2 separate regions of the Homo sapiens genome follow, and region 2 is linked to region 1. Evidence: fine-mapped QTL for protein levels in blood plasma. A gene starts in region 1. The other region holds a variant in brackets. All regions are shown on one strand. Distances are between the middles of the regions.

Region 1 (11,204 bases):
ACCTCAGTGGCCTCTGGCTTTGCTGTGAAAAAGACGTTCACGTCAGGAGCCCCTGCCCTGCGCCCCTCCCTGCCTGCCTCCCTTCGGGGGATGCCCGAGGACACTTACCAAACACGTTGAGCCGCGCAGTGGCCTCAGCAGTGCCTGCCGCCCCTGCCCTCACCACGCACACGTAGTCTCGCTCGTCGCCCACCTGGGCCTCAGCCAGCACCAGGCGCCCCTGGGAGTCCAGCTGGTATGGGGGACTGCGGCCCCGGGTGTCGTGCATTGTGACCTGGAGCTCAGAGCCCTGCATCTCAGCCGAGGCTAGGCGGGGGCGAGCTCCCGAGCGGTCGGTCTGTGGGCGCGGGGCAGGCTCTCAGCTCCGGGTGTCCCAGCGCTCCTCAGTCTCTCTCTCTCTGGGTCCTTTCTCTCTGCAGCTCCTGGCTCTGCCTCTTTTCCTCTTGTTATGGGTCTCCCTGGTCCCTCTGTCCCTCCCCACCTTCTCCTGCCCCCATTCCCTATCAGTTCTTGATTTTTCCTGTCTCCTTTTCTCCATCTCATTCCGGTCCCATCCCTTCTCCTCTTGGTCTCTCCCTCTCCCGATTGTCTCTCATTTTCTTTCCTCTTTTTTTTTGAGATAGAGTCTTGCTCTGTCGCCTGGCTGGAGAGCATTGGCTCGATCTCGGCTCACTGCAACCTCTACCTCCCAGGTTCAAGCGATTCTCCTGCCTCAGCCTCCTGAGTAGCTGGGATTACAGGCACATGCCATCACGCCCAGCTAATTTTTGTATTTTTAGTAGAGACGGGGTTTCACCATGTTGGTCAGGACAGTCTTGATCTCTTGACCTCGTGATCCACCCGCCTCGGCCTCCCAAAGTGCTGGGATTACAGGCGTGAGCCACCGTGCCTGGCTTCTGCTTTCTTGATGTCTGTCTCTGTTCTCTCTCTCAAGAGCCCGCAGTCCAGAGCAGGTCAATGTCATTCTAGACTTGGCTGTGCCTAGACACGGGGCACCTTGCAGATCCCTTCCCCTCAGTGGGACTCAGTGACCCCATCTGTAACAAGGAGTGTGGCTTGGTGGATCTCTACAGGCCTTAGGCACTGATGAGAGAATGAACCTTTGCTGCCCTGCTGTGCCCTGACTCCAGGCCCCCCAGCCCCAAGCACTCACAAGGAACCATTCCAGCATATAATGGTCGTGGGTTCCCGTAGGGGTGCAGTCCAGAATGACAGACTTTCCTCGCATCACCTCCACCAGCGGGGGTACAGACAAGCGCACCTCCGCCTGGGCATCTGCAAGAGAGCAACTGAGCTATCATCCACCACACCAACAGGAAGAGCCCTCCAGACAGGGTCCCCTCTCCCCCAGGACACAAGCGTCCAGGTCCCAGCCCCTCCTCCCTCAGACCCAGGAGTCCAGGTGCCAGCCCCTCCTCCCTCAGACCCAGGAATCTGGGCCCCTGTCCCCTCCTCCCTCAGACTCAGGAGTCTAGGCCCCAGCCCCTCCTCCCTCAGACCCAGGAGTCTAGGCCCCAGCCCCTCCTCCCTCAGACCCAGGAGTCCAGGCCCCAGCCCCTCCTCCCTCAGACCCAGGAGTCTAGGCCCCAGCCCCTCCTCCCTGAGATCCTTTCGCCCTCCATCCCTTCTCCCTGCATCTCTGGGTCTCAAATCCATCTCTCCCTGCACTTGCAGAGCTCAGGGCTCCTCCTCTGGGCTGCACAGGGCCCTGTGGCCTCCGCTGAACACTCCTGGGGTAATACTGCACCAGCCTTTGCTTATCCCAACAGAGCACACGCCACCCCCCAGGGCAGGGCCAGGCCTGGCTCAGCCATTTGCCTCCAGCACCCTGGGCAGGGCCACCTCTGTGATGATGGATAAATGTTTCTCTCCATCCTGGTCTCCACCTTTGCGTGTGTCTCTCCTCTTGGGTCTCCATCTCTGTCCCTGTCTCTGCCTCTCTCTGCACCTGCACCACTCAGTCCCTGGGTCTCTTCCGCTCTCCCATGAGTGAGGGGCTGGGGTGTGGGCTGCGGCTGGGCCCGGAGCTTAGGCGGGATGGATGTGTGGGGGCGGTGAGGGGGGACAGGGCTGGGCAGGTTTCAGGAATGTGGGAGGGACAGGCTGGCTGAGACCTGCCCGGCCTGGAGCCAGAGCCCCCAGCCGCCTCTTGGCCCCCCTCAGTTTGATACAACAGCAAACGGGATAAGTCGAGTCATCTTGCAAAAGGATAAGGTTGAGGCCCAGGATCTTGGGAAGCTGGGCACCTGGACTCCTGGGATCAGAGGGAAGAGGAGGCTGGGGCCTGGTGGAGTAGTTATTGTAGAAAAACCACCACCCTCCCTCACCCTCTGGGCTGGCATCCTGGCATCAGCTCTCAGTGCTTCTTAGAAACTCCCTTCCCTTCTCTGCTCAATCTGGCCCAGCCCTACCCCTGGGGACCCACTGTTGACCATGAGTGTGCCAGGGGCCTGGATTCCCAAGCGCTCACCTCTGGCCCCAGCCTGTCCCCAGGGAGGGGTGACGGGGTCCAGGCTGGTGCCTAAGGCTGGGTCTGATCTGCAGACAAGTGGAGGCAGAGAGTTCCTCTCTCTTCCCCAATCTCTCTCATCTCTCTGTCCCTCTGTCCCCAGCACCCCCACCCCCACCCCCCAGCCCCCGGCCTCCTCTCCTTCTATCCTCATGCAGGTGTGTAAATGTAGCTGAGGCCCCAGGAAGGGGGCCTGTCACTTGGAAACACTTTGTTCCACTGTCACTGCCCGGGGCTGGTGCTCCAGCCCTTTCCTGAGGGAGGCGGGTTCTTTATACTGGACTCTGGAAACTCCTAAATACATGTGGATCGCTGGTGTGGGGACACATGGTCCTCGCTTCTCTAAGGGGTCCCTGGACCTCTCAAAACTTGAGGACCTTTGAGGGAGAGAGCCCTGGGGTTTTGATCCTCTGTGCCCTGGGGGAAGCTATTCTAGCCACTGGAGGCCTGGACTCCTGGGTCTGAGGAAAGAGGGGCTGGGGGCCCAGATTCCAGGGTCTGAGGGAGGAGGCAGGTGGGACCCAGATTCCAGGGTGCTGAGTGGGAAGGGGGCTGACTTCTCTGGTTGTCTCTGATCCACCGCCTGGGTATCCCCAGCTCTCCTGCCTGGCTGTCCCCAGATCTCTCTCACTGGAAGGCGTACCTTCCAACACTCCCATATCCCTCCTCCTTGGGGTCCCCACATTTTGCTTCCTGGGGTCAGGGTAAAGCCCTTTCTCCTCGCTTTCCCGGGGTCCCCAGGGGCCTCTCCCCAGTCCCACCTTGCCCTCAGCCCGAGCCATACCTGGGTGCGCCGCCAGCAGGACTGCGAGCAACAGCAGCCGCGGGGCCCCGCGCGCCTGGGCCGGTGCGTCCGGGGGCTCCATGTTCACGGCGGCGGCGGAGACTGAGCCCGGGCTGCAGCTCGGCCGCTGCGGGGCTGGGAGCCAGAGGCCCCGCCCCCGGCAGCCCCGCCCCGCCCCGCCCTCCAGGCCCCCCTCGTCCCCCGATGCCCGGGCGCGGGGCCAGGACCTCCCACTGCCCGGAGCGGACCTCCCAGTGCACGGGGCCAGGCTCGGGGCTCGTCCGCCCCCAAGCCTAGAGCTGTCCGGGCTTACTGACCAGCGCCTGCAGCGGGGGGCCTGATCGACCAGCGTAGCCAGTGACCCGAGCTGGGATCTCACCAGGCAATCGCGGACCTTCTCCTCGTTATTCTGACCAGGGGCCTTGGGGACTCGTCCCCACTGTGACCAGCAGCCTGGGCTGGCATCGTCGATTTTAACCAGAGGACCCCACTGCAACCTGTGGCCTGCGATGGCCTCTCCCAGTGTAACTAATGGCCCCAAGCGTGCCGTCCGAGTGGCCTGCACTGGCCTCTCCCAGTCCAACCAGTGACCCCCGCAGCCTGACCAGTGGCCCCCAGCAGCTGCTCCCAGTATGCCCGGAGATGTTTTCCCCTGTGGTCAGTGCTCTGGGCTGCTTTCCTCGTCTGACCAGTAGCCTGGAATCAACCGGTTTAATCTCTTATTTTCAATGGTCTTCAAATCCAGGTCCTCCTAGGCCGCTTCGATGATGGGGCTGGGGGTGGGGTACGGGGTGCCCTCTCTGCTTGCTCACCCATGGAAGGCCCTCCCACTCTTCCCCCTATCCAGGGAATCCCAGGAATGCCACCCTCCCTTCCTCCTTCCCGCTCTCTCCTTCATTCCCTCCCAACCTTGTGGGGAAGGGAGGAGTCAGACTGGCCAGAGCAGGTGAGGAGGGCAGGGGAAGAGGCCAGGGCACCTGCGGGAAGGGGGAGGAGTCCAGCCACTGCTAGGAAGCGTGGGTCACAGGTCCGACTGCCCAAGGCCCCTACAGGCCAGGTCAGACTGGGACAAAATCCCCCACTAGATGTCACTAGTTGCCCAGGACAGTGGTCAGAACGTGGGAGGGTGGGGGGTCGCTGGCCACACTGGGAGAGGTTACCCAAGCTTCTGATCAGCCTGGGGGTTGAGGTAGCCCTGGAGCTGGGCTTTGCCTGCTCAGACATACAGAGAAGGCTTGGATTACAGGTCAGCCTGGGAGTTATTAGACTGGTCAAGGTTACTTTATCCATTGGTCATACAGGAGACCAACGTTTTTTTTGTTTGTTTGTTTTGTTTTTGACAGGGTCTCGCTCTGTTGCCCAGCCGGGAATGCAGTGGGCGCAATCATAGCTCATTCAAACCTCAACCGCCTGGGCTCAAGCAATCCTTCCACTTCAGCCTCCCAAGTAGCTGGGACTATAGGCTTGTGTTACCATGTCCAGCTAATTTTTGTATTTTTTTGGTAATAGAAACAGGGTATTACTATGTTGCCCAGGCTGGTCTCCAACTCTTGGGCTCAAGTGATCCTCCTGCCTTCCAAAGTGCTGGGATTACAGGCATGAGCCACTGCATCCATCCTACAGAGCAACTGTTACATTGGGAAAGACCTTTTAGGATTAACTGTACCATCCCCTCCTCCAGGAAGTCCCCTCTGCCTTCCCTGGCTGGGTCAGGTTCCCCCTCTGGGCTCCCCCACCTGAGCCCGGCACACTCTGGGGGTCCCTGGCTGGGGATAGGTCTGTCTCCCTCAGTGGACTGTGAGCCTGTGAGGGCAGGGCCAGGGATGTCTTGATCACTGTGGTGAGCTAAGGGCTCCTCCCCTGGGCACCCCGCCCAGCACAAGACCAGACACAGTGCAGGTGCTCAGGGAAGGTTTGTTTGCAAGGCACACAAACTCACGTGCAGATTCCATCCAGACTGGAGCATCCCAGGATATACAATACAAACTCACTCATGGGGAATGCGGCGGCACTCCAAGACAGTCCCAGGTGCTGTCAAGCTCACACACTGTGAGCACCGACACCCATACCCTAGCTCTTCTGTCCCCAGCCTGTGCACCTTCTGTTTGGGCTGGACCCTGGTACATGCCCTCTCAGCAGCCATCGCCCACTTCCACCTCCCTCAAGAACCCAGCCAGCTGAGGCTGGGCGCTGTGGCTCATGCCTGTAATCCCAGCACTTTAGGAGGCCGAGGTGGGTGGATCACCTGAGGTCAGGAGTTCGAGACCAGCCTGACCAACATGGTGAAACCGCATCTCTACTAAAAATACAAAATTAGCTGGGCGTGGTGGCACATGCCTGTAATCTCAGCTACTCAGGAGGCTAAGGCAGGAGAATCGCTTGAATCTGGGAGGTGGAGGTTGCACTGAGCTGAGATCGTGCCACTGCACGATGTTGCCTGGGCAACAAGAGTGAAATTCTGTCTCAAAAAAAAAAAAAAAAAAAAGAAGAACCTAGCCATCTGAGGTTCTGGGTGAGGGAGGAGAACTCTATGGCATGTGTATGAAGGAGAAAAGTCAGAAACACCAAAACAGCAGCCGTGGACCCTTGCAGACTTGCAGAAACTAGTCTTGTAACATCATCTGCCTTTGTCCCCTGTAATTTATTCTCACAAAACAGCCTGAAGGATTCCTTTTACATGTGAATCAACTCATGTCACTCTTCTGCCCCAGGGTCCTCCCATGACTTCTGTCTCACTTAGGGTAAAAGCTGAGGTCCAGGTCAGCCGCAGGGACTCACGTCTGTAATCCCAGCAATTTAGGAGCCTGAGGCGGGAGGACTGCTTGAGCCCGGGAGTTTGAGACCAGCCTGGGCAACATAGCGAAACCCCGTCTCTACAAAAAAATATAAAAATGGCCAGTCATGGTGGCCCATGCCTGCAATCCCAGCACTTTGGGAGGCCGAGGTGGGTGGATCACCCGAGGTCAGGAGTTTGAGACCAGCCTGGCCAAAATGGTGAAACCCCCTCTCTACTTAAAATAAAAAAATTAGCCAGGGGTTGTGGCAGGTGCCTGTAATCCCAGCTACTCGGGAGGCTGAGGCAGGAGAATTGCTTGAACCTAGGAGGTGGAGGTTGCAGTGAGCTGAGATCATGCCATTGCACCCCAGCCTGGGTGACAGAGCGAGACTCAGTATCAAAAAAAAAAAAAAAAAAAAAAAAAGTTCTAATTCCATCCATGCGGCCGCAGGTGTATATCCTCACATATTTTAACTAACAAGGCTTATCTTTTCTGAAACTCTGGGCTCAAGCGATCCTCCTACCTCAGCCTCCCAAAGTGCTGGGATTATAGGTGTGGGCCACCACGGTTGGCCAGACTTACCTTTTCATTGTTTTTGAGACAGAGTTTCACTCTTGTTGCCCAGGCTGGAATGCAATGGCGTGATCTTGGCTCACTGCAACCTCCGCCTCCCAGGTTCAAGCAATTCTCCTGCCTCAGCCTCCCAAGTAGCTGGGATTACAGGCATGCGCCACCATGCCCGGCTAATTTTGTGTTTTTAGTAGAGACAGGGTTTCACCATGTTGGCCAGGCTGGTTTCGAACCCCTAACCTCAGGTGATCCACCAGCCTCAGCCTCCCAAAATGTTGGGATTACAGGCGGAAGCCACAGTGCCTGGCTGACTTATCTTTTCTTGACCTTTTTTCCCATTATTTTTCACACAGTGTGTGACGATTAACTTTACAACTAGCTCACAGCTTGTGGAATATGGGGAGAATGACATATTTGGAGGGGAATGGTTCTTCCCTGATTCCAGTCTCAGATCTGGAAAATGGAACTATTGAAATTTTTTGTATTGGGTGGCAGTGTGAATGCATTTTTTGATTGTACAATGAGAGACGGTTGTGCGGGGAAAGTTTCGATAAGAACTTCTGCAAAGGGCCTATTGATATTGAACATTCAAAGCCAGCTGTGGTGGCTCATACCTACAATCCCAGCACTTTGGGAGGCTGAGGCAGGTGGATCGCTTGAGCCCAGGAATTTGGGACCAGCCTGGGCAACATGGCAAAACCCTGTATCTACAAAAAATACATATTAACCGGGGGTGGTGGTGGTTTGTGCTCGTAGTCCCAGCTACTCAGGAGGCTGAGGTGGGAGGATCGCTTGAACTGGGGAGATCAAGGCTGCAATGAGCCAAGATCGTGCTACTACACTCCAGCCTGGGTGAAAGAGTGAGACCTTGTCTAAAAAACAAAACACAACAAAAAAAACCAAAGGAGCGGGCTATAGTACATATTTTGCGGGAAGGATTACCTAGCATCTGCAGCTCCTTCCCACATTTAAGGAAATTCCTACTGTCTGAAAGCCTCTGTTGCCCACTCTTGAAGCCAACAAGAATGGATGTTTGCTTTCCTGCATCTGTTGGAGCTAAGGTGACTTAAGCTTGGCAAATCCTTCCACACTTTTGAATATCAGGAATTGGCCACCTCTTCCAGCCATGCATGGCAGCTGGGACAGATTCTGTTTTCCAAAGACGGCTACAACAATCTCTTTCTTTTTTCTTTTTGAGACAGGGTCTTGCTCTGTCACCCAGGTTGGAGTGCAATGGCATGATCATGGCTCACTGCAGCCTCGTCCTCCAGGGCTCAAGTGATCCTCTCACCTCAGCCTCCTGGGTAGCTGTGAGTACAGGTGTGCACCACCACTCCTAGTTAATTTTTTTTTTTTTGTAGGAATGGGGTTTTGCCATGTTGTGACAGTGTCTTTCATCCCATGTGTGTTTCCACAATGAGAGCTTGATACTCTTTCCATCAAGAGCTGGGGTCTATGGCACCCTCCTCTCAAATCTGTGCAGTTTGGTGACTTGCATACAACCAACAGAATTCAGCTGAAGTGAAGTTGCGGAACTCCCAAAATGAGCTAGAAAAGGCCATGCAGCTTCTGCCTGGGTCTTCAGCGGCCATATAAAGTTTGACTACCTTGAGGCAGCCATGCTGTGGGGAAGCCCAAGCTGGCCAGTGCAGAGACTATATGGTGGGGGAGGCCCTGAGACCACAGAGAGATGCCCACTTGTCCAGCACCCCCAGCCGCCCTGTGGCAAGCATCACTGATTGCACTGTTTGTTTGCATCCTGAGCCAAAACAAACCAGCCACGCCTTTCTTCAAATCCCAGCCCACAGCAACCATGAGACTTAATGCAATGATTGCTGTCATTTGCGGCTAAGTTGTGAAGTGATTTATTACCAGCAACAGCTAATGAGAAGAGCAGCCATATCCTATTTCTGGGGCAGCAGAGGCAGCGAGACAACTACAGTGTCTAGTGGCCATCGCCAGCATGGCCTCATCAGACCGGTTCCGTGGTGTCACTGTGGCTGGGTTACCATTGCTGGCCAGTTGCCAGGATTCTTCCTGCTCACTTTCCAATCCTGATTCCCCAGTTCACTCCTGGGATTCTGTGAGTGACCCCAAATCCTCTCAATAAATTCCCTTTCTGCCCCTGAGGTAGCATCTGTTGCTTGGAACTAAATCTGTGAAAATTCTCTTTCTTTCTTTTCTTTCTTTCTTTCTTCCTTCCTTTCTTTTCTTTCTCTCCTTCCTTCCTTCCCTCCTTCCTTTTCCTCTCTCTCCCTCCCTTCCTTCCTTTTTTTTTTTTTTTTTTCAGAGTTTCGCTCTTGTTGCCCAGGCTGGAGTGCAATGGCACAATCTCGGCTCACTGCAACCTCCATCTCCTGGGTTGAAGTGATTCTCTTGCCTCAGTCTCCCGAGTAGCTGGGATTACAGGTGCCCGCCACCATGCCTGGCTAATTTTTGTATTTTTAGTACAGACGGGGTTTCACCATGTTGGGGTGAAAGTATAGACGGGGTTTCACTCCTGACCTCAGATGATCCACCTGCCTCGGCCTCCCAAAGTGCTGGGATTACAGCTGTGAGCCACTGCGCCCGGCCCTGATACATTCTTTCAAGCCTCCTGTCCATTGGAATACTTTTTCATCATTTAAAAAATTTTCTTTTCTTTTTTGAGACAGGGTCTTGCCATGTTGCCCAGGCTGGAGTGCAGTGGTGCAATCTCGGCTCACTGAAGCCTTGACCTCCCAGGCTCAAGCCATCCTCCCACCTCAGCCTCCTGAGTAGCTAGGACTTACAGGCATGTGCCACCATGCCTGGCTAATTTTTCCAAAATTTTTTGTGGAGATGGAGTTTCATCACGTTGCTCAGGCTGTTCTCAAACTTCTGAGCTCAAGCATCCCGCCTGCCTCAGTCTCCCAAAGTGCTGGGATTACAGGCATGAGCCACCACGTCTGGCCTCATCATCTTTTAAGTATCAGCTCAGACATCGCCTCCTCCTGGAAGCACTCCCTGACCTCCCAGGCTGAGTCAGGTGCCCACTCTGGGTTCCTGTAGCCCCCTGGGATTCCCTACCCCAGCCATGCCCACTCTGGGTCATCACTGTCTAGGGACAGGTCTCTTTCCTCTAGTGGAAGGTGAGCCCTAGTGGGGCAGTGATCACTGCTTCCTGGTCAGCATTGCTCAGCCCAGCGCTGGGCACAGGGCAAGGTCTCCGGGAATGGGGCAATTTAAACAAGGTGGAGGGAGGCTTGGGCCACTCCAAGATGAATCATGAGGTGGTATCTCTTCTTCCTCAGCAAGATTTAGACTGGAAGTTAGCAGTTACTCTGGGAGAAAGATGTCAGAGAGGAATGAAGGACAGAGAGAGGGATGAGCACAGACCGTGGCAAGGCAAGGTGGATAACCATCAGGGAAATGTGTGGTCCTTTTGACCAGGGACTTAACCTGGATATCTGGGTCTAGGTCCAGGGATTTTTTTTGCCATGATGAAGCAGGAGGGTTGGATGCCCGATTCTCAGAAAACTTGGGATTCTGGACTTCTAAATCCTGAGAGCAGGACTCCTGGGTATCACAGAGAAGGCTGGGGGCCCAGTTTCTTTTTTTTTTTTTTCTTTTTTTAAGACAGGATCTCGGTCTGTCACCCAGGCTGGATTGCTGTGGCACAATCACAGCTCCCTGCAACCTCAGCTTCCTAGGCTCAGTCTTTCCCACTTGGCCTCCCAAAGCCTTGGAATTACAAGCGTGCGCCACCGTGCCTGGCCCCAGATTCCATTTGAAGATCTGAGGGTGGAGGGGCTGGGGACCTGGACTCCTGGGTCTGAGGGAGGAGGGGCTGGGGCCTGGACTCCTGGGTCTGAGGGAGAAGGGGTTGGGGGTCTGGACTCCTGGGTCTGAGGGAGGAGGGGCTGGGGCCTGGACTCCTGGGTCTGAGGGAGAAGGGGTTGGGGGTCTGGACTCCTGGGTCTGAGGGAGGAGGGGCTGGGGCCTGGACTCCTAGGTCTGAGGGAGGAGGGGCTGGGGCCTGGACTCCTGGGTCTGAGGGAGGAGGGGCTGCAGTATGGACTACTGGGTCTGAGGAAGGAGGGGCTGCAGTATGGACTCCTGGGTCTGAGGGAGGAGGGGCTGCAGTATGGACTCCTGGGTCTGAGGGAGGAGGGGCTGGAGTATGGACTCCTGGGTCTGAGGGAGGAGGGGCTGCAGTATGGACTCCTGGGTCTGAGGGAGGAGGGGCTGGGGCCTGGACTCCTGGGTCTGAGGGAGAAGGGGCTGCAGTATGGACTCCTGGGTCTGAGGAAGGAGGGGCTGCAGTATGGACTCCTGGGTCTGAGGGAGAAGGGGCTGCAGTATGGACTCCTGGGTCTGAGGGAGGAGGGGCTGGAGTATGGACTCCTGGGTCTGAGGGAGGAGGGGCTGCAGTATGGACTCCTGGGTCTGAGGGAGGAGGGGCTGGGGCCTGGACTCCTGGGTCTGAGGGAGAAGGGGCTGCAGTATGGACTCCTGGGTCTGAGGAAGGAGGGGCTGCAGTATGGACTCCTGGGTCTGAGGGAGGAGGGGCTGGAGTATGGACTCCTGGGTCTGAGGGAGGAGG
Region 2 (15,936 bases), 27 kb before region 1:
CCCAGGAAGTCTTCTTCTAGGAAGGCCTCTAGCACCTCCTTTCTCCTGGCCTACGAATGAGTGGGCTTAGCTCTCTCCTGGCTGTTCTTTGTGAGCAGGGATGAGCCCAGGAAGAAAGCCCCAGGAGGCTGGCCATGGTGGCTCAAGCCTGTAATCCCAGTACTTTGGGAGGCCGAGACAGATGGATCACCTGAGGTCAGGAGTTTGAGACCAGCTTGGCCTACGTGGTGAAACCCTGTCTCTACTGAAAATACAAAAATTAGCAGGATGTGGTGGCGGGTGCCTATAATCCCAGCTACTTGGGAGACTGAAGCCGGAGAATCGCTTGAACCCGGGAGGTGGAGGTTGCAGTGAGCCAAGATTGTGCCACTGCACTCCAGCCTGGGTGACAGCAAGGCTCTGCCAAAAAAAAAAGGAAAAAAAAAAAAAGAAAGAAAAAAATGCCCCAGAGGTGTAGGCTGGAGTTTCACACCCTTGGGTCACAAGCATGAGGCTGAGCACCAAGTTTGGTGACAAATGACTGGGTGGGTTCCACGCCCGCCTGGGGAGTTGACTTTTAGTGTCAAGGAGTCCCAGAGGTGGCACTTCACTGAAGAGCCATAACCACTAGAAGGTAGGGGCATAGGTAGGGGCAAAGGCTTCCTGACGGAGCTATGGAGCTGATGCCAAGTATTTTACCTGCCTGGCAACCTTTCCTTTCTTTTAGCAGCAGCAGCAGCTCCCCTAACCACTTCCTCCCCTCAGTCTTTTTTTTTTTTTTTTAATTAAGACAGGGTCTCACTCTGTCGCTCAGGCTGGAGTGTGGTGACATTACCATGGCTCACTGCAGCCATGACCTCCCTGGCTCGGGATCCTTCCATGTCAACTTCCCGAGTAGCTGGGACTACAGGCATGTGCCACTATGCTTGGCTAATTTTTCTATTTTTTTGTAGAGATGGGTTTTTGGGTTGTTGCCGAGGCTGGTCTTGAACTCTTGGGCTCAAGCAATTTGCCTGCCTCGGCCTCCCAGAGTGCTGGAATCACAAACGTGAGCCACCATACCCGGCTCTTATTCTGAGACAGGGTCATGCTCTGTTGGCCAGACTGGAGTGCAGTGGTACAATCATGGCTCATTGAAGCTTCCACCTCTCAGGCTCAAGCAATCCTCCCACTTCAGCCTCCCAAGTGGCTGGGACTATAGGCATTCGCCACTGTGCCAGAATAATCTTTTTTTTTTTTTTTGAAACGGAGTCTTGCTCTGTTGCCCAGGCTGGAGTGCAGTGGAGCGATCTTGGCTCACTGCAAGCTCTGCCTCCTGGGTTCACGCCGTTCTCCTGCCTCAGCCTCCCGAGTAGCTGGGACTACAGGCGCCCGCCACCATGCCCAGCTAATTTCTTGTATTTTTAGTAGAGATGGGGTTTCACCTTGTTAGCCAGGATGGTCTCAATCTCCTGACCTTGTGATCTGCCCGCCTCGGACTCCCAAAGTGCTGGGATTACAGGCGTGAGCCACCGCACCCGGCCAATCTTTTTTTTTTTTTTTTTTTTTCTGATACGGAGTGTCAGTCTGTTGCCCAGGCTGGAATGCAGTGGTGTGATTTTGGCTCACTGCAACCTCTGCCCCCTGGGTTCAAGTGATTCTCCTGCCTCAGCCTCCCAAGTAGCTGGGACTACAGGTTTGGGCCACGACGCCTGGCTATGTTCGCAGTTTTATTAGAGACGGGGTTTCACAATATTACCAGGCTGGTCTTGAACTCCTGACCTAAAGTGGTCTGCCCTCCTCTGCCTCCCAAAGTGCTGGGATTACAGTCGTGAGCCACCGTGCTCGGCCTGCCAGACTCATCTTTTGACTTTTTTGTAGAGACAGGCTCTCACTAGGTTGCTCAGGCTGGTCTTGAACTCCTAGGCTCAAGCAATTTTCCTGCCTTGGCCTCCCAAACTGCTGGGATTACAAGCATGAGACATGACTCCTGGTATACATATATATATATATGAGACTATATATATATGTATAGACTATATATATATATATATGTATGAGACTATGTGTGTGTGTGTGTGTGTGTGTGTGTGTGTGTGTATATATATATATATATATATATATATATATATATATATATATAGTCATTTGCAATCAAATATAACCTTACTAATAAACTATATACCCCAAAAAATCTGTACATGTCTGGGAGATGCACAGAGCTTTGTAAATTTCCAAGGGCAGGGCAAGGAGGGGCTGGTGGTGAAAGCTTTCAGAATTCTTCAGGATGTCCAGGCTTTGAAGAATAGGCAAGCTTTGTCACAGCACGGGATATGGGGAAGGGCATTCCAGGTAGGAGGGTGGTGACAGCGGGAGCAGGGGATGTGAGGGTCAGTATCTTAGAAGGTCCAGAATGCCAGCTGAAGGGCGGCTCATGCTCTGGGAACCACAGAAGGTTAAAGAGCAAGGGTAGTTTACTACCAACTTCTCTTTACTTCCTGGAGCCCCAGATCCTGAGGTTCACCCCTCCCACTTTCCTATTGCCCTAGGCCTTTGTAATGTAGGCTGGAGTTTCAACCCTTGGGAGGAGGGGTCATACTGATGTGGCCCCAGGCTGCCATCTCTATGCAAATTCCCTGGGATGCCATGCAGATGAGGGACCTTATGCAAATGTATTCCCTCCTGGTGGGGCAGGCTGGGATCCTCCACTCATTAACTTGGGGACCAGGTACTGGATGGAGAACCCTTTCCTCTTCTCTTTCCCTTCCCACTAGCCATCTGTTCACTCGCCATCCAACTCACCAAACCCCAACACCAATGTCTGCCTTTAGAGTGGTATCTCTGTATCTGGTCCCTGCCCTGGACTAAGGGAGTGTTTGTATTTTATTTATTTTATTTTATTATATTTTATTTTACTTTTGAGATGGAGTCTCGCTCTGTTGCCCAGGCTAGAGTGCAGTGGCGCGATCTCGGCTCACTGCAAGCTCCGCCTCCCGGGTTCACGCCATTCTCCTGCCTCAGCCTCCCGAGTAGCTGGGACTACAGGCGTCTGCCACCATGCTGGCTAATATTTTGTATTTTTAGTAGAGACAGGGTTTCACCGTGTTAGCCAGGATGGTCTCGATCTCCTGACCTCGTGATCCGCCCGCCTGGCCTCCCAAAGTGTTGGGATTACAGGCGTGAGCCACTGCGCCCAGCCTATTTGTTTATTTATTTATTTATTTTTGAGACGAAGTCTCGCTCTTGTCCCCCCAGGCTAGCGTACAATGGTGTGATCTCGGCTCACTGCAACCTCCGCCTCCCGGGTTCAAGCGATTCTCCTGCCTGAGCCTCCCGAGTAGCTGGGATTACAGGTGCCTGCCACCACGCCCAGCTAATTTTTGTATTTTTAGTAGAGACGGGGTTTCTACTAAATCATGTTTGCCAGGCTGGTCTCGAACCCCTCACCTCAGGTGATCTGCCTGCCTCGGCCTCCCAAAGTTCTGGGATTACAGGCGTGAGCCACCGCACCTGGCCTTTATTTTTTTTTTTTTGAGACAGAGTGTCGCCCTGTCACCCAGGCTGGAGTGCAGTGGTGTGATCTCGGCTCGCTGCCACCTCCGCCTCCTGGGTTCAAGTGATCCTTGTGTCTCAGCCTCCTGAGTAGCTGGGATTACAGGCGCGTGCCACCATGCCCAGCTAATTTTTGTCTTTTTTTTTTTGTAGAGACAAGGTTTCACCATGTTGGCCAGGCTGGTCTCGAACTCATGACTTCAGGTGATCTGCCTGCCTCGGCCTCCCAAAGTGCTGGGATTACAGGTGTGAGCCACCGCACCTGGCCTAAGGCAACCTTTTTGCTTTTCTCTGTGTCTCTTTATTTTTCCTTAGATAATCACAATAATTAACATGTACTGCACATGGACTCTGTGCCAGGCTTTGTACTAAATACTTCCCTGGTTATCTCATCAAATTCTCCCCTCCATCCTCTGATCCTCTGTGTGCATTTGCTGTATTTTTTTAAAGGGAATTTTCAATTCTGTTATATAGGGAACAAGAGCCCTATAAATAAGGACACAGACAGGTGAAATGAAGGATGGATATTAAGAAGCAACTCAAGCCGGGCGTGGTGGCTCACACCTGTAATCCCAGCACTTTGGGAGGCTGAGGCAGGCGGATCATGAGGTCAGGAGATCGAGACCATCCTGGCGAACACGGTGAAATCTTGTCTCTACTAAAAATACAAAAAATTAGCCAGGCGTGGTGGCACCCGCCGGTAATCCCAGCTACTCGGAAGGCTGAGGCAGGAGAATCAGTTGAACCCGGGAGGCGGAGGTTGCAGTGAGCTGAGATCGCGCCACTGCACTCCAGCCTGGGCAACTGAGCAAGACTCCGTCTCAAAAAAAAAAAAAAAGCAACTCATGAGACCTGTTAGACATACTAAGAATGTGAGCTGAACACAGATGGGAGGGATGCAGGGATCCAGTAAGCTCCAAGCATTCATGCGTCCTGTGGGCGACACCCACTCTGCTCCATGAGTCCCAAGCCCAAGACACAGGTAAAAGCTGTGGCTGCCAAGCAGGTGATCAGCCAGCTACAGTCATCTAGCTTCTCATGTTTATTTTTGTTGTTGTTTTGAGACGGAGTCTCGCCCTGTTGCCCAGGCTGGAGTGCAGTGGCGTGATCTTGGCTCACTGCAAACTCCGCCTCCCGGGTTCAAGTGATTCTCATGCCTCAGCATCCCCAGTAGCTAGCATTACAGGTGTGCCCCCCTACCCCTGGCTAATTTTTGTATTTTTAGTAGAGATGGGGTTTCACCATGTTGGCCAGGCTGGTTGAGAACTCCTGACCTCAAGTGATCTGCTTGCCTCGACCTCCCAAAGTGCTGGGACTACTGTTATTTTATTTTTTGAGACAGGATCTCGCTCTGTTGCCCTGGCTGGAATGCAGTGGCTGGATCACGGCTCACTGCAGCCTCAGCCTCCCAGGCTCAAGGGATCCCCCTACCTCAGCCTCCCGAGTAGCTGGGACTACAGGCGTGTACCGCCACATCAGGCTAATTTTTGCATTTTTTGTAGAGACAGAGTCTCTGTTTGTTGCCAGGGCTGGTCTCGAACTCCTGGGCTCAAGTGATCCTCCTGCCTTGGCCTTCCAAAGTGCTGGGATTACAGGCCTGAGCCACAGCGCCCAGCCTGTTTTATTTTTTGAGTTTTGCACAACATCTTTTGTTTTAATCAAATCTCTTTGTTTTACTCCCATAGATTTGGCTTCAAAATTGAAGATCTAGATTCCATGTCCAGAGAAAGAGAGAACCTGATGAGTCTTGAGAACAAGACCAGGGACAAGATCTCTGAGCTGGAGTTCAAGGTCAACAGCCCACTTTGGTTAACAAGAGGCACCTCCTGGCTGTCCAGTGCTTCCTCGTGGAGGAGTCAACTGCTTCTCTTGGGAGGTGGAGGGTGTTCCCATCCAAGTGCCTCCTCAGGCCCTAGAGAGTCAGGGATTGGTTGCAGTTCCTGAAGTCTCTTCCTAGGTCTGTGGACCTTCTAAGGAATTCCACTGACCACTTTCCCCACTGGAGTCCAGCAACACCATTAGGATGTGAATTATTATTATTATTATTATGTCTTGGAGACAGGATCTTGCTCTGTCTCCCAGCCTGGAGTACAGTAATGCCATCATAGCTCGCTGCAGCTTTGACTTTCTGGACTTGAGCGATCCTCCCACTCTGAGTAGTGGGGACTGCAGGTGTGTGCCACCATGTTTGGCTAATTTAAAAATTTTTTTGTAGAGATGGGATCTTGCTGTGTTGCCCAGGCTGGTCTTGAATTCCTGACCTCAAGTGATTTTCCCGCCTTGAGCTCCCAAAGTGCTGGGATTACAGGCGTGAGCCACTGTGCCTGGTGGGTTGTGAAGTTTGTTCATTGATGTCTCCCCAGTGCCTGGCACACAGTAAACACTCAATACACTTTTTATTTTTTTGAGACGGAGTCTCGCTCTGTTACCCAGGCTGGAGTGTAGTGACTCGATCTCAGCTCACTGCAACCTCCGCCTCCAAGTTTCAAGTGATTCTCCTGCCTCAGCCTCCCGAGTAGCTGTGACTACAGGCATGCACCACAATGCCAGGCTAATTTTTGTATTTTTAGTAGAGATGGGGTTTCACCATGTTAGCCAGGCTGGTCTCGAACTCTTGACCTCAGGTGATCAGCCAGCCTTGGCTTCCCAAACTGTTGGGATTACAGGCGCGAGCCACCACGCCCTCTGAACTTTTCTTGAAGGTATGATTGCGTGAATGGAGGAATGAATCCTCAGGTGTGTTTTGCCAGGGGCTGGCCAGGCATGGCTTTCCCAGTAGGTGCTCTATTGCATTGGAAAGGTGGAACAGGCTTGACTTCCATGTTTGTGAATATAAACTGGCCTCTTAGGTCTTTCTTTCCTCCAGTCTTTCCTCCTCAGGCATAGATGGTAAACAAAATGTCACCAACCTCACCAGCAAAGTGCTCATTTCCCTGGGGCCAGAACATGATGTACACAGACACAAATTTAGCATATTTGATATCATGATATCATGCCCACCTGGTGGGGTCAGCTGGGTGGGCTGCCCACCTGGGCCCCAAACCTCTCTCGCACTCTTCCTGGGAATCTATCCTTTTGCTGAGACTGCAGGCTATGCCTCTTGGAGGTGGTAAACAGAACTTCAAGGGGCAGAGACAGGTACATGAGGCACCACACAGACCCACTGACCCAGTCTGGCTCCAGGGTTAAACAGATCTTGAGACAATGAAAATAAACTTAGCAATAATCAAAGCTTTAAAGTAAAAGCTTCTATATATATGTGTGTGTGTGTGCGCGTGTATATACACATATATATGTATGTATTTATTTATACATATATAAATATATATGCGTGTATATATGTACATATAAATATATAAAATTAAAGAGATGTGGGAGGCCGGGCGCGGTGGCTTACACCTGTAATCCCAGCACTTTGGGAGGCCGAGGCGGGTGGATCACAAGGTGAGGAGATCGAGACCATCCTGGCTGACACGGTGAAACTCCGTCTCTACTAAAAATATAAAAAATTAGCCAGGCGTGGTGACGGGTGCCTGTAGTCCCAGCTACTTGGGAGGCTGAGGCAGGAGAATAGCGTGAACCCGGGAGGCAGAGCTTGCAGTGAGCCGAGATCGCCCCACTGCACTCCAGCCTGGGCGACAGAGTGAGACTCCGTCTCAAAAAAAAAAAAAAAAAAAAAGAGAGATGTGGGAGGTCGGGCGTGGTGTCTCATGCCTGTAATCCTAACACTTTGGGAGGCCAAGGCAGAAGGATGGCTTGAGCTCAGGAATTCAAGACCAGCCTGGGAAACATAGTGAGATCCCATCTCTACAAAAATAAAAAATTAGCCTGGCGTGGTGGCACATGCCTGTGGTCCCAGCTACTCGGGAGGCTGAGGCAGAAGGACTACTTAGCCCTGGGAGGTTAAGGTTGCAGTGAGCAGTGATTGCACCACTGCACTACAGCCTGGATGACAGAGCGAGACCTTGTCTCTAAATAAATAAATAAGGCTGGGCGAGGTGGCTCATGCCTGTGATCCCAGCACTTTGGGAGGCCGAGGTGGGCAGATCACCTGGGGTCGGGAGTTTGACACCAGCCTGGCCAACATGGTGAAACCTTGTCTCTACTAAAAATACAAAAATTAGCCAAGCATGGTGGTGCACACCTGTAATCCCAGCTACTCAGGAGGCTGAGACAGGAGAATCCAGGAGGTGGAGGTTGCAGTGAGCTGAGATCGTGCCATTGCACTCCAGCCTGGGCAACAGAGCAAGACTCCAACTCAAAAAATAAATAAATGAATGAATGAATAAATAAATAAGTAAATAAATAAATACATGAAGGTGCTGGGTGTCACTGCATTGTTTCTTTCTAGACTTTCCTCTGTCTCTCTGTTTCTGTCACTATCTTTGGGTCTCTTCGTGTTCCTAAATTTCTGTATCTCTGGGTCTTTCGTTCCTTATGCTTCAGCATCCCTCTGTGTTTCTGGTCTCTGTTTGTCACTGTTCCCTTTTCCTTCCCTTCCGTCCTTCCCTCTGTGGCTCAGGCTGGAGTGCACTGGCCAGATCACGGCTCACTGCAGTCTCCACCTTCCTGTGACTAGGTGATCCTCCCATCTCACCCTCCGGAGTAGCTGGGACTACAGGCTCATACCACCACACCTGGCTAATTCTTTTGGATTTTTTGTAGAGATGGGGTTTTGCCACATTGCCCTGGCTGGTCTTGAACTCCTGGGCTCAGGCGATCTGCCCACCTCTGTCTCCCAAAGTGCCGGGATTACAGGCATGAGCCACTGCAGCCTCCAATTATAATATGTGCTTCTCAAATACCGGTTCCTATTTATTTGATGCCATTAGTAGGTTAGAAAGTATAATGTAAGCTGGGCGCTGTGGCTCACGCCTCTAATTCCCTTCCTTCCCTTCCTCCTTTTCTTCCTCCTTCCTCCCTCCCTTCCTCCCTTCCTGCCTTCCTCCTTTCCTTCCTCCTCCCTCCCTCTCTCCCTTCCTCCTTTCCTTCCCCCCCTCCCTCCCTCCTTCCTTTTCTTTCTTCTTTTTGAGACAGAGTCTGGCTCTATCCCCCAGGCTGGAGTGCAATGGCGTGATCTTGGCTCACTGCAACCGCCGCCTCCTGGGTTCAAGTGATTCTACTGCCTCAGCCTCTCTAGTAGCTGGGATTACAGGCGTGTGCCACTACACCTGGCTAATTTTTGTATTTTTAGTAGAGATGGGGTTTCACCATGTTGGCAAGGCTGGTCTCGAACTCCTGACCTCAGGTGATCCTCCTGCCTTAGCCTCCCAAAGTGCTTGGATTACAGGCGTGAGCCACCACGCCCGACCCAATTCTTTCTGATATATACCCAGAAGGGGAGTTGCTGCATCATATGTTAAGAAATTTTTAAATAAATAGATGTTATGAAGCAGCATATTAAAAAAAATAAACAATGTAGTCAAATAGAGTTTCTCCAAGGAACTTGGCAATTTTAAATATTTAATAATTTATGCCAGGTGTGGTGACTCATGCCTGTAATCCTAGCACTTTGGGAGGAGGCCGAGGCAGTCGCATTGCCTGAGCCCAGGAGTTCAAGACCAGCCTGGGCAACATGGTGAAACCCTATCTCTACAAAAAGTACAAAAATTAGCCAGGTGTGGTGGCATGCTCCTGTAATCCCAGCTACTCAGGAGGCTGAGATGGGAGGATCACCTGAGCCCTGGGATGTTGAGGCTACAGTGAACCGTGATTATGCTACTTTACTCCAGCCTGGGTGACAGAGTGAAACCC[T/C]GTCTCTTTTTTTCTTTTGTTTTAAGAAACCGTGTCTCAGGTGTGGTGGCTCACGCCTATAATCTCAGCACTTTGGCAGATTGAGGCAGGAGGATAACCTGAGGTCAGGAGTTCAAGACCAGCCTGGTGAACATGGTGAAACCCCGTCTCTACTAAAAATACAAAAGTTAGCTGGGCGTGGTGGCGGGCGCCTGTAGTCCTAGCTACTTGGGAGGCTGAGGCAGGAGAATCACTTGAACCCAAGAGGCAGAGGTTGCAGTGAGCTGAGATCGTACCGCTGCACTCCAGCCTGGGCGACAGAGCGAGACTCCATCCCCCCATCCCCCCAAAAAAGAAACCTTGTTTCAAAGAAAAATTTAACATTTTCTACCCACTTAATAAAGTGACACTGTATGAAAAAATTTAAAAAATTCACATAACAGATTAAAAACCTGTTAAATATATTTATATATACACATGTAAACGCACATGTGACATACGTACTTTATTTTATTTTATTTATTTATTTATTGAGACAGAGTTTTGCTCTTGTTGCCCAGGCTGGAGTGCAATGGTGCGATCTCAGCTCACTGCAACCTCTGCCTCCTGGGTTCAAGTGATTCTCCCACCTCAGCCTCCTGAGTAGCTGGGACTACAGGTGCCCGACACCATGCCAAGCTAACTTTTGTAGATTTAGTAGAGACGGGGTTTCACCATGTTGGCCAGGCTTGTCTCGAACTCCTAACCTCAGGTGATCCACCTGCATTGGCCTCCCAAAGTGCTGGGATTACAGGCATCAGCCAACATGCCTGGCCATGGACTTTATTTTAAAATGGGATCATATTCTAGATCTGCATTACCCTGTAGAAATTTCTGTACTGGGGGCCGGGCGCGGTGGCTCACACCTCTAATCCCAGCACTTTGGGAGGCTGAGGCGGGCGGATCACGAGGTCAGGAGATCGAGACCATCCTGGCTAACATGGTGAAACCCCGTCTCTACTAAAAATACAAAAAATTAGCTGGGCGTGGTGCGGGCGCCTGTAGTCCTAGCTACTCGGGAGGCTGAGGCAGAAGAATGGCGTGAACCTGGGAGGTGAAGCTTGCAGTGAGCCGAGATCGCCCCACTGCACTCCAGCCTGGGTGACAGAGCAAGACTCCGTCTCAAAAAAAAAAAAAAAAAAAAAAAGAATAAAAAAGAAATTTCTATATTGATGGAAATGTTTTATATCTGTGCTGTCCAATATAGTAACCACAAGCCACAATTGTCTGTTGAGCAGTAGAACTGTGGCTATTGTCACTGAAGAATGAGATTCTACATTTTATTTAGTTTTAAGTAGTTTACGTTTCTATAGCCACATATGACTAGGGATACCGTATTAAACATCAAGGATCTAGAAAGTATTTTCTGAAACATATCACTCACTCAACATTACATTGGTAGCTTCACTCCGATTTTATTTTATGTATTTGTCTATTTTTTTGAGACAGGTTCTTGCTGTCATCTAGGTTGGAGTACAGGGGTGCGATCACAGCTCTCTGCAGCCTTCATCTTTCTGTCACAGTCTCCCGAGTAACTGAGGTTACAGGCACCGGCCACCACGCCTGGCTAATTGTTTGTATTTTTAGTAGAGACGGGGTTTCACAGTGTTGGTCAGGCTGGTCTTGAACTGCTGGTCTCAGGGGATCCACCCGACTCTGCCTCCCAAAGTGCTGGGATTACAGGTGTGAGCCACCTTGCCCGGCCGAAGTTATTTGTTTTTTTTGAGACAAGTTCTTGCTGTCACCTAGGTTGGAGTACAGTGGTGCGATCATATCTCACTGCAGCCTCCCTCTTCCCGCCACAGCCTCCTGAGTAGCTGGCACTACAGGCTCGTGCCACTATACTCAGCTAGTTAAAAAACTTTTTGCTGGGCGCGGTGGCTCACTCCTGTAATCCTAGGACTTTGGGAGGCCAAGGCGGGCGGATCACGAGGTCAGGAGTTTGAGACCAGCCTGATCAACATGGTGAAACCCTGTCTCTACTAAAAAAAATACAAAAATTAGCTGGGTGTGGTGGTGTATGCCTGTAATCCCAGCTACTCTGGAGGCTGAGGCAGGAGAATCGCTTGAACATGGTAGATGGAGGTTGCAGTGAGCCAAGATCACACCACTGCACTCCAGCCTGGGCGACAGGGTGAGACTCCATCTCAAATAAAAAAAAAAAGTATAATATAAACCATATGCCAATCACAAACAGAACCAAAGTTATATGTTAGCATTAACATTTTTTTTTAGAGTGAGGTCTTGCTGTGTTGCCCAGGCTGATCTCAAACTCCTGGCCTCAAGTGATCCTCGTGCCTCAGCCTCCTGAGTAGCTGGGACTAGGCATGAACTACTGTGCCCAACATTTTTTTGTTTGTTTGTTTGTTTTTGAGATGGAGTCTCACTCGGTGTCCCAGGCTGGAGTTCAGCGACACAATCGCAGCTCACTACCACTTCCACCTCCTGGGTTCAAGGGATGGGCTGGGTGCCCAGCTATTTTAGGATAAATTTTCAAAGAATGTGCATGGCTCAAATGAAGAAATCTAAAATATCTTTCTAAGGTATTTAAAAGAAAATATGAATATTAGTAAAAATGGTCTATGCATAGAACCCAGAAACTAGAAAAGAACAAAATCAAGCAAAAGTATTAATACTTAGGATGATGGAAGTAACTTGGGTGGGTTTGGGGCAAGAGCTCCTTAAAATAAGAGAGTCTGAAAGACATTTCTGGCTAGGTGCTATTTTGAGCCAAAATCTGCAGTATGAGAATGAATGAATTACGTGAGGATCTGTAGTGAAAGATTTCAGGACAAATGAAGGGTAAGTTTGAGAGTCCTGGTCAGGTGTGATGGGTCATGCCTGTAATCCCAGAGCTTTGGGAGGCTGAGGCAGGAGGATCTCTTGAAGCCAGGAGTTCAAGACCAGACTAGTCAACACAGAGAAACCCCATCTGTAAAAGTTTTTTTTTTTTTTTTTAATTAGCCAGCTGTGGTGGTGCATGCCTGTAGTTGCAGCTACTGAGGAGGCCGAGGTGGGAGGACCTGCTTGAGCCCCAGGGTTTGAGGCTGCAGTGAGCTATGATCACACCACTGCACTCCAGCCTGGGTGACAGAGCGAGACCCTGTCTCAAAAAAAGAAAAAAAGAGGTAGGAAAGAAACAAAATATTCAAGGGCTGGAGAGACAGACTGTCTGATAGGATGCAGGCAAGGAAAGTGAAGCTAGGGATGGCAGAGAGAGAGGCACTATGCACGCAGCCTTTTGTAGGAGTTTGAATTTTATTCTAAGAGAAATGAGAAAACCTGAGTCACAGACGGGTTTCTAATCTGCTATTTATTTATTTATTTATTTATTTATTTATTTTTGAGACGGAGTTTCACTCTTGTTGCCCAAGCCAGAGTACAATGGTGCGATCTCTGCTCACCGCAACTTCTGCCCCCTGGGTTCAAGCGATTCTCCTGCCTCAGCCTCCCAAGTAGCTGGGATTATAGGTGCGCACCACCACACCTGGGTAATTTTTTGTATTTTTAGTAGAAACGGGGTTTCACCATGTTAGCCAGGCTGGTCTCAAACTCCTGACCTCAGATCATCCACCTGCCTCGGCCTCCCAAAGTGCTGGGATTACAGGCATGAGCCACCGTGCCAGGCCTGGTTTATGTTTTAAAAAAGCATAAATTTCGAGAATACGCAGTACACGTATGCATTAGGACGCTCCTGGAAAAGTATAAAATTATGTTTAAAAGCAGTTATAGGCAGGGCATGGTGGCTCATGTCCATAATCCCAGCACTTTGGGAGGCTGAGGCGGGCAGATCACCTGAGGTCAGGAGTTTGAGACCAGCCTTGCCAACTTAGTGAAATCCCATCTCTACAAAAAATACAAAAATTAGCTGGGCCTGAGGGCAATGCACCTGTAGTCCCAGCTACTGGGGAATCTGAGGTGGGAGGATCACTTGAGCCCAAGGTCGAGGCTGCAGTAAGTCATGATTGCACCATTGTACTCTAGCCTCGGCGACAGAGCCAGGTCCTGTCTCAAAAACAAACAAACAAACAAACATACATGAGAGCAATGGGTCAGCCTGGGCAACAGAACAAGACTACATCTTAAAAAAAAAAATTGGCCCGGCATGGTGGCTCACGCCTGTAATCCCAGCACTTTGGGAGGCTGAGGTGGGCAGATCATGAGGTCAGGACATCAAGATCATCCTGGCTAACACGGTGAAACTCTGTCTCTACTAAAATTAACTGGGCATGGTGGCATGCGCCAGTAATCTAGCTACTCTGGAGGCTGAGGCAGGAGAATCGCTTGAACCCGGGAGGTGGAGGTTGCAGTGAGCCAAGATTGCGCCACTGCACTCCGGCCTGGGCGACAGAGCAAGACTCCATCTCAAAAAAAAAAAAAAAAAAAAAAAAAAAAAAAAAAAAAATTGGCCGGGCGCAGTGGCTCACACCTGTAATCCCGGCACTTTGGGTGGCCGAGGTGGGCCAATCACCTGAGCTCGGGAGTTTGAGACAATTCCGGCCAACATGGTGGAACCCCGTCTCTACTAAAAATAAAAAAATTAGCTGGGCGTGATGGCATGTGCCTGTAGTCCCAGTAACTCAGGAGGCTGAGGCAGGAGAATCGCTTGAACCCGGGAGGTGGAGGTTGCAGTGAGCCGAGATCTCGCCACTGCACTCCAGCCTGGCGACAGAGCGAGACTCCGTCTCAAAAAATAAATAAATAAATAAAGAGAATTGACAAGTGAAAGTATTGCCTATAAGATAATTTCTTTTTTTTTTTGTGAGATGGAGTCTCGCTCTGTCGCCCAGGCTGGAGTGCAGTGGCATGATCTCAGCTCACTGCAAGCTCCGCCTCCTGGGTTCACGCCATTCTCCTGCCTCAGCCTCCCGAGTATCTGGGACTACAGGCGCCCGCCACCACGCCCGGCTAATTTTTTGTATTTTTAGTAGAGACGGAGTTTCACCGTGTTAGCCAGGATGGTCTCAATCTCCTGATCTTGTGATCCGCCCGCCTCAGCCTCCCAAAGTGCTGGGATTACAGGCGTGAGCTACCATGCCCAGCCCCGCCTATAAGATACATTTTAAAGTTATTCTGTATTTTATAGAGCCATATGAGCTTGGTGTTTTATTTTTTTTTTAACTTTTACCATTTTAGATTTAGGAATTCCACTTTAAAAGGATGGGAAGGGTGACTGAAAGGTAACGTTTAAATTTTTAATTGATGTGAGTATTAGAGCCATCAAAGATTGCTGTTGAGCATTTGCTTTTATAAGTGCATTGATCCAGGTGAAAGAAGATGTATGTTTGGACTGATGGCCGTGAAACCATTTGTAGAAAGAGCTAGCTGCAGCTCTATGCCCTGTGGCAGGGTATAGAGTTAAAAGGTTTATTGAATATGGGAAGCCGGGGGATAAGTGGTCAGGAAAGAGAGCTGTATGGGAGGGGACCCATGGGATGTGCCTTTGGGTTATGTGAGTGGGAGGTAAAGGAAATGGAGGAATCCAGGATAAATTCTAAGTTTTGGGCTCACCCAGCTGGAGGGCAGGGATACCATTTATGCGAGAGGAAAGACTGGAGGTCGATTTGGGACATAATAGGTTTGAGGTATCTATGTGGATATCTGTCTGTCTATCTATCATCTATCTGTCTATCTATCTATCTATCATCTATCTATCTATCTATCTATCTATCTATCTATCTATCTATCATCTATCTATCATCATCTGTCTATATCTATGTAAAGACAGGGTCTCACTCTGTCACACAGACTGGAGTGCAGTGGTGCAATCAAGACTCACTGCAGCCTCGAACTCCCAGGCTCAATCAACCCTGCTGCCTCAGCCTCCTGAGTAGCTGGGATCACAGGCATGCGCCACCATGCCCGGCTAATTTTTTGTATTTTTAGTAGAGACAGGGTTTCACTATGTTGGTCAGGCTGGTCTTGAACTCCTGGGCTCAAGCGATCCGTCTGCTTTGGTCTCTCAAAGTGCTGGGATTACAGGCATGCCTGGCTACCCCCTGCCTGGCTATTTTTTTGTATTTTTAGTAGAGACAGGGTTTCGCTATGTTGGCCAGGCTGGTCTTGAACTCCTGGACTCAAGTGATTCACCCACCTCGTCCTCCCAAAGTGGTAGGATTACAGGCGTGAGTCACGGCACCCAGCCTGAGATAAAAGCTTTATAAGATTAGAGGTTAATATTCCTGGTGTGTAGAGAGATCCTGCAAATTAATAAGAAAAGGTAAAAAAAAAAAGAGAAAAGTAGGCAAGAGTATACCACAGTTCATAAACAAGAAAAGCAAATGGCCAATGAACATACAGAGAAACACCATTTTCACACTAGAGGTCACGGAAATTCAAATGAAAACAAATTAATATGCCATTGTGGTGAATTTGTATAATTCTATATTGTCTTAGCATCCATTCTGAATATGTTTAACTTTCTCATGCCAAAATCTGGACTTAGTTATCCTTGACACAGTTTCCAGCTCTATACTTCCTCCCAGTCCTTCCTCCCTCCCTCCCTGCCTCTCTTCCTTCTCTCTATTTCTTTTTTAGAGACAGGGTCTCATTATGTTGTCCAGGCTGGTCTCAAAATCCTGGCCTCAAGCAATCCTCCTGCCTTAGCCTCTCAAAGCACTGGGTTTACAGGTGTAAGCCATCATGCCCGGCTCT

The links. PIP is the chance, under the fine-mapping model, that this variant and not a neighbour inherited with it causes the effect. Sun 2018 read protein levels with aptamers (SomaScan).
Region 2: its variant is fine-mapped to the plasma level of the BCAM protein (Sun 2018, PIP 0.95).

Annotation. Positions count from the first base shown.
Region 1 is chr19:44,801,296-44,812,499 of GRCh38, reverse strand. BCAM (basal cell adhesion molecule (Lutheran blood group)) reads right to left here and starts at 3,397. Exons shown (of 15, transcript NM_005581.5): 1 at 3,294-3,397; 2 at 1,154-1,275; 3 at 109-337; 4 at 1-22. The coding sequence starts at 3,375. RefSeq lists an enhancer at 1-223.
Region 2 is chr19:44,826,068-44,842,003 of GRCh38, reverse strand. No RefSeq gene overlaps it. Among named protein-coding and RNA genes, the nearest start is that of NECTIN2, 12 kb to the left of the region's middle. The variant T/C (reference allele first, on the strand shown) is at 9,265.